Homo sapiens: one gene and its partner. The protein of the gene in region 1 binds, or shares a complex with, the protein of each later gene. Each region holds a gene or a part of one and is shown on either strand. Other genes may lie near its edges.

Region 1 (3,746 bases):
GGAAACAAAAATACTATTGAAAATAGCCTAGAGTAAAAGTGCTTACTGAATTTAACAATAATCCACTTTCATTCAAATTTTAAGAATTACATGCTGATAGCTTCTCCTAACCCAAACTAAGATGTTTCTATTCATATGCTGAAGAGAGTCACAACTGTCAAACTGCGTGTAAGTAATTCAGACAGGAAAACTAGAAATGAGGAAGGCCCAGAATCACTGGGGTCAACGCACATACTACATATCAAACGGACGGTACAGAAAAAGAAATACACTGGCTACTTGTAGGACTAAAGAGAAGCCCAAATAATAAAGATATAAATTCAAGATTGCTGTCCTGAAACGAACATTAATAAAACATAAACAGAAATGTACTGTCTCTCTGAATCAAAGTCAGTATCCCTATAAAAGAATCTGGTAGATGCAATCTTGTTTAATCACTAAAGTACTGAATTCTGAATCTAACTCTTTTGCCTCCAAAAATAAGTTTAACTGAAGTGTTTTTTAGAACTTCTGCTCTCATTCTGGAGATCATTTGCATTACAATATAAACAATGCTAGACAAATGGCTCCCACAGCAACTATTCTTGGTAGTGACATTAAAATCAAACGGAAAACTAATACACACTAGGAAAGAGATATTACTATTAACTCTGATAGGAAAGAAAAGAGTGAAGCAAACATTCAAACCTGAGCCAAGATTTGTTTTTAAATCAGCTGCCTAAAAAGAAGCCCCCTGGGAGAATCATGCTTCAATTTGGTGAGGGTCTCAAGAGGATAGAAATCAGAGTATCATTACTCCAAGTAAGCTCATTATACAGATATTAAGTCTAAACTAAATGAGAAGCTACATCCTGAGTTTAACAAGCTGGGAACGAACGTCCTAATTGACTAAGCTTCGCAGGTAAAAGAATGAGTGACAGTCACTCATTGTCTTTCCAGTCGGGATTGTCATCAGTCTCCAGGTCTTCGGAAAGTCAAGCGCCTGCAGCCTCGGATCTTAACTCCCGGAAAGTACACGAGCGGCTAGAGCGAGCGCAACTCGCTTCCGACAGTCCTTCCCGTCCCCATTCCCCACCCCTAAACACGTCTTCGCGCTCTCTTTTCAAAGAGCGAGAAACTTTAAAAACTTGGATCTGCACAGCCCGGCAGCTCGCCGACGGGGCGCTGCACCGTTTCCACGCGATGGAAACAGACCCCGAGCACAAGTTAACAATGAAATCACGTGAAGGAGTTCAGAGCGGTGCATAGCCCCGGCCCAGCTCCGCACCCTAAGCTCTGGGGGCCGGCTCGAGGGCGGCGCGGGTTGCTGGGAGCCTGACAGTCGCGCACCGGGCCAAGCCGCGAGGTTGACAGGCGCCCGGCCTCCCCTCGGCGGCTGGGCTGACAGCCCGGCAGACACAACACCACACGTGCTGCGCCTCGCACCACAACACCCGCCGGCCTGTCAGCCCCGCTCGCCGCCTCAGCCCCGCTCGGATCCCCGCGCCCCCGGCCGGAGCCAAAGCCGGAGCCGGAACCCGAGCCCGAGCCCGAACCCGAGCGCCCGCGAGCGCGGGGAGAAGCGGCCCGGCCCGGCACAGCCGGCACGCGCGCGGCGGGCGGGTGGGCGCGCCCCGAGGGAGAGCGGGCTCGCCGGCTCCGCCAGCCCGAGGCTCCGCGGCCTGGGCCGCTCGCCGCCCGCCCACCCGCCGGCTCCCCCAGGGCGGGCCCGGCCGGCGGGATCGGGGGCGCGGGGCCCGCGAGCGCGGGGCCGGGCGGCGGCGCGCGGGCCGCGGGCCGGGGCAGCCGGGCGCCGAACAAGCGAGCAAGCGAGCGAGCGAGCGGGCGGGCGCGAGGGGGCGGCCACGGCGCCCCAGCCCGAGGCCTGGCGCAGAGCAGCGGGAGGCGGCGCAGGCCGCGGCGGGGCCTGCAGCGGCCCGCCGACCCCGCGAGGCAGCGGAGTGGGCCCTGGAGCGGCTCGGCCTCGGGCTGGGCGGCCGGGGGCGGCCGGGAACGGCCCCTCGGCTACTTACCGGGAGGAAGGACAGCCGAGATCCCGGGGCCCCGGGCCGGACCGCGGAGATGCCCCAAACTGACACGGCCGCCATCTTGGAGACAGTGAGCTCCAGCCGGGGGGAGGGGAGGCAAGGCGGCGGAACAGCCGCGGGGGGAGGGGAGCGTCGCGAGGGAACGGCGGCCTGGGGGAGGGAGCTGGAAGAGCCTGGGCGGGCGGCGAGGGGAGGCGGAGGCCCGGCAGCGCGGGTGGGGGGCGGCCGAGAGCGGGAAGAGCTGGGCCGAGAGCCGGGAAAGGCCGGAGGGCGGGGCGGGGCAGCAGGGAAGAGCCGGCCGGCGGGGTCACGTGGGGCCGGTACAAAAGGCCAAAGCCAGGGGAGGAGGAGGACTTGGTGGGGCTGGAGGCTGGGGAGCGGGGGTTCCTCCTCTCCCGTCTCACGCGTTTAAGTCAGACGGCGACCCGGGAGAGGAGGAGCTGGTGCACCCCATGCCACCGCTGGGGAAACTGAGGGCAGGAGTCTGGGTGGGGTGGCTTCAGTGTGGCACGGAAATCCGGCAGCCACGCAGGATGGGAACTCTCGGCGGCGTCTGTTTACAGTTAGTGAGCCCTCCCTCCCCACTCATTTGCCTGCACAGCGACTTTCCGGAGCCCGAGGGCGGGGCCTGGGGGGCGGAGAGGAGGCGGCTTCCCGTCCTCACCCCTGGCAGCTCGCCTCAGCCCCCGACGGCTCTCCTGTGTCGGTGGGAAGAGTTGGGGAGAGGGTGGAACCAGAAGCACCCGTCTTAACCCCTTTCAGCAGTGACTTCATTTCTTCCCTCCCCCAGCAGCTGAGAGGGTTCTTGGAGCTCACTAGAGCCATTTTATGGGAGACTCCACAGACCTGGGTCGTGTGACTTGGACAAGGTCACACAGCTAGTATGTGGCGCGCACCTGAGCCTGGGACTGAGATTTGTCTTATTCCAAAGCCGGTCTTCCCTTCTTGCCCTGTGCGGAACTCTTGTCCATACTTAGGGCGTTGGAACCACGAGCAGGCGGTTCTTCATGGCCTGCCTGTCCACTACTGGCTGTATGGACGTTTCTTTGTCTTGCCTTTCATCTACTTTAAACTCTTTGATGCAGAGACTGAGTCATACTTTTTTTTTTTTTTTTGAGACAGTGTCGCTCTGTTGCCCAGGCTGGAGTGCAAGTGGTGCGATCTTGGCTCACTGCAACCTCCGTCTCCTGGGTTCAAGCGATTCTCCTACCTCATCCTCCTGAGTAGCTGGGACTGCAGGCGCCCGCCACCACGCCTGGCTTATTTTTGTATTTTTAGTAGAGACGGGGTGTCACTATGTTGGCCAGGCCGCTGGTCTCGAACTCCTGACTTCAAGTGATCCGCCCTCTTCGGCCTCCCAAAGTGCTGGGATTACAGGCCTGAGACACTGCACCTGGCCAAGTCATGCATTTTTTTTTTTTCTGCATTCACTAGAAAGACAGTAGACATGAAAAAGACACTAAATGTTTAATCGTTGACATGGACGTGTATCCTGCTGCCTGACCTTTATCTGCCCTGTCCCCAACCCCATACGACACACCCCGCCTAGACTGTCGCCCGCAATACCTCATTTTATCTCAGCTTTAGCTTTTAAGGGCCTCCCTCTCACCCACTGCCTTAACTTCCATGCTGACTTCCTTTTCTGAACTTCTGTAGTAGTATCATTTGCTCTAGTCATTTTGCACTTACATGTGATATATATATATATATATATATATT
Region 2 (3,746 bases), on another chromosome or scaffold:
TTGGAAAGCAGAGGCTATATGAGGAATTTCAAATTCAAACACCCACAGGGGCTAGGCTGATGACCTAACAGAGGTGGGTTAGCCTGAGCAGTGGCGGCAGGAGTGCATACTCTAATCATCACCTTAATCCAGGATGGTTCTCTCTGTTCTATTAATGGTAACACTGATTTATTTATTTAGCAGAGAACCTTGAGTTTGAGCCATCTTAATCTAGACTGAGATGGCTGCCACCCCACTTCCAACAGGGAAACCTACACAGGCCCAAGAGCCCTGGAAGGGCATCCCCTGAGGTTGGCCTCGATCTGGAGGGCTGGTACCTGGTCCGGTCTGAAGCAGCGCTGCTACTGCTACTGCTGCTGGACTCAGAGTCTGAGCTGCTCCGGGGAAGGCTGCAGTCATTACGGTATACCAAGAAACTCTTCTTCACTGGTTGGTTTCCACCGCTGAAGCCATTGGCTGGTAAGTCTTGGTTGAAGGGAAGGGGAGGAGGGAAGGAACCGGTCAGGAAGATGTAGATCAGAGATGACATGGAGGTAAGAGGGACTTGGAGCTTGGGTTCCCCTTCTGTGCTGGAAAATTCCTCCAACCTTGGCCAGCAGAGCTAGCTCTGGGCAGTGTCTACCACAGTTGGCCACAGCCCTGCTCCACCCCTTGCTTCCCTCGGCAGTTACTGGCTTTAGGACACAAATGGCTTAAAGGGCAGGAGATCCCCAAGGAAGGTGAGAAGAGAAAAGGTAAAGTGATACAATGGAGGCAGGGGGCCCTGGATGGGACTTTAGCTGGGTCGTAGTGTCTCTGGGCCTCAGTTTTCCCAACTGTAAGATGAGTGAGTGGAGTTAAAGGATTCCTAAGGACCCTTCTAGCTCGCTCTTTTATGGGCAAATAAAGGGGTAACTGGGAGTATGCTGGGAAGAATGGCAGCTTTGCTCACTCTCTTGGGGGGCTGGGTGATGGTAAGGCTCACCCATTGGGGGGTCTTCTGTGGACTTATCACTGTCGCTGTCTGAGCTCGAACTGGGCCGGGGGCTCCTACCCCGCTTGCGCTGACGCAGGGAACTCATGATGGGGAGCTGGGGGGGCCCCACAGGACTGCCTCCGTGGCTGGGGGTCATCTGGCTCTCCCGGTTTTTGGGGGGCCGGCCCGGCCTCTTGGGCGGTCCAGCTGTCTTCGGGTTCTTTTTGGAGAACAGAACTGAGGTTCTCCTGCCCACCTCATGTGCGGGGGTTGAGGACATGTTGGGACCCAGGCCTGGAGCAGAGAAAGAAAGAAGGAGAGTTGGTGAGGGGCCTGATTTGAGAAGGGTAGATATCCAGGGTCATGCCCTGGGCATATAGGACCATTACTCCAGCTAACGTTGGGGAGATCATTTTAGGGGCTTGGAATTTGGAAGATTAACTCTTATACAAATAGCCAGAGAGGCAGCTAAGAGGCCCCTGATTGGGGAATGAGGGAGAAAGTACAGCTAGCTGTGTAGGAGGGACCTCTGCCTGGGGAATGGCAGGGGTTGAGTGTGTGCTGCAGAGCCAAAGTCTGACTTGCTTTGGGGTCCACCTTGCCATGGGATTCAGACCTTTGCTTGTCTCCTGGCTGCTGCTCTCCTCTGCCGCACTATCTGTCTGCCCATCCTTGTCACAGGCTGCCGGGTGGGGTGTCAGACTACCCCGGCTCGAGGGGCCATGCCGCTCAGGGCCATCACGTCCCGTCTCTCGCTGATGGGCAAGCTTCCGCCGCAGTGCCGTCATCTCTTTCTTGATCATCTTTGCACGCCGTGAGCGGCCCACACTCTGCTTGCTGGCATTCACTTCGTCCAGCCGCTCCAGAAGCAGCTTTAGCTGTTCTTCCACTGGCAGGTGCTTCTGGTTCTCCAGCAAGACCAGCCGCTCTTCCTCGGCTGCTAGGGGTAGGGTTGGAGGGGAAAGGTCAGACTCAGGGCAGCCCTCAGGGCCCCTTGAACCTGGGCAGGCAGCAAGAAACCCACTCATCCCCCCTGGGCTTCTCACCAGGAACAGCTGTAAAATAGCAGCACCAAGATGTGGAATGGCGGGCACTGCTATCCATTCACCCAGTCTGGCTTCTTGGGGAGCATTCCTGGGGATAGCTTGCCACTGCTCAGCCTAGCTGCTTTCTGCCTACACTGCCTGCTCCCAGGAGGGGACTTTTGGAAAGCTGTCCATCCCCGGCATTGGCCTCTTATATGTGTGTGTGATATATCACCCACCATCTTCAGTGTGGTGTGTGGCCTCATCTCCAGCCAGGCTGTGGGGGATATGCATGCCCGTCTCAAAGTCAATGCCCATTTTTTCTGCCTGGCGCCGGGCCTGGCGGAGCACAGCACCACCCTGCTCACGAAGCCGCACTGCTGCCCGGTAGAAGATGGTGTCCTTGGCGTTATACTTGAGGCAGTTGCTGACGATGAGGTTGAAGTCCTCCTCAAAATCATCAAAATTCAGGTAGCGGTAAGCCTCCAAGTTCTGCTTCATGGTGAAAAAGTCCATGGGCTTTTTGATGTGGTCTAGGTAGTCAGGTACCTGGAAGGGCAGGGCAGGTTTGTTTTAAGTGGAGATATCCTCCTTATTGCCCCGAACCCTGCTCCTAACAAGCCCCCCTGAAACACATCCAGCAACCTCCTCCCACCACAGTTAGAGGCAGGCATATAGCACAGGGGAAAGGAAAGCTGGATTCTGGTCCTGACTTTACCAGTCACAAGCTGTGTGACTTTGGCAAGTCTCTTAACCTCTCTGGGCCTACTTTTCCTCTCCTGGAAAATGATGAAAGTAGAGCCAAATATACTTTCTAGACTATATGAGGCTTTAGTAAGAAAATGGCTTGGGGACTCCTCTGAAAATAAACACCACCTTGCATTCCTACAGCTCTTTTTACTTAACAGTAACTTATAAGGAGGCTGCTGCCTCAGGCCTCTCATTTTATACCTTTTAGAGAGAAGAGTCTGCCAGTCAGGACCTAGGGCTTCAGAGCTGGTTCTTTAGGTGCTGAGCCTTCTAAAGTCTCCGTTCTAGGGTTCAGCACCCCGAAAGTGTCTTCCTGCCCTGGGATTATTCATTTGGCAGACTCAGTCCCTGCCTCTGGGGAAGGAGTGCAGACTGCCTCCCATTCTGGGCCCTTGGGGTGTGACAGGGACAAGACAGAGTCCAGGTGATACATGTGGCTCCAGTTCATCCTGCCCCAGAGCCACCAGCCCCTCTCTTCAAGGTCCCCATCTAGTCCTGGCCCAGACCTGCAGCAGGGGTCCAACTGGGAGAGGAACAGAGAGAAGGTGGAGTGAGGGGAAGGGATTCTTACTTCGTCCAATTCGGTTACCTCAGACAGAGGGACCGGCTCGCTGAAGATGTTGCCTGTGTCCTTCTCTTGGAGCTGCTCCAAGGTTTTGCGAAGGAGGATGAGGAAAGGAGTCAGCTGCATCTCCATGGCAATCTGCTGAACCTTGATCTAACATAGAAAAAGGCCTGATCAGCCAGGCCTCGGCCAGTTCAGTGGCAAAGAGGTCTGAGGATATGGTCCCAGCTGGCCTGGGAACCCGCCTTCTTTCCCACCCTCACAGCTGGGTGTACTCATACAGGTCTACCTTCTATGAGGCTCCACCCAGGGAAACTTGCACCAACAATTCTGGCTTCCCCCTTTCTTGAACTACCAGCACCAGCTACCTATGTCACATAACTGAGGATTCTGTTCATACGCTCCTGTGACATTCTGCTTCCAGCAGAACTAAAAGCACACCGAGCACCAG

What was found. Proteins that work in one complex are often made in the same cells at the same time.
Region 2: KAT6A (region 1) and BRPF1 share a complex: the UniProt entries of both Homo sapiens proteins name them as parts of the MOZ/MORF complex.

The regions. Positions count from the first base shown.
Region 1 is NC_000008.11:42,049,889-42,053,634, forward strand, and holds the start of KAT6A (histone acetyltransferase KAT6A), read right to left. Parts: upstream 2,100-3,746; 5' UTR 2,013-2,099; exon of another isoform or gene 1,862-2,012; intron 1-1,861. UniProt on the Homo sapiens protein: Histone acetyltransferase that acetylates lysine residues in histone H3 and histone H4 (in vitro). Component of the MOZ/MORF complex which has a histone H3 acetyltransferase activity. May act as a transcriptional coactivator for RUNX1 and RUNX2.
Region 2 is NC_000003.12:9,741,727-9,745,472, reverse strand, and holds part of BRPF1 (peregrin), read right to left. Parts: intron 3,449-3,746; coding exon 3,302-3,448; intron 3,122-3,301; exon of another isoform or gene 2,932-3,121; intron 2,530-2,931; coding exon 2,220-2,529; intron 1,896-2,219; coding exon 1,572-1,895; intron 1,250-1,571; coding exon 965-1,249; intron 466-964; coding exon 318-465; intron 1-317. UniProt on the Homo sapiens protein: Scaffold subunit of various histone acetyltransferase (HAT) complexes, such as the MOZ/MORF and HBO1 complexes, which have a histone H3 acetyltransferase activity.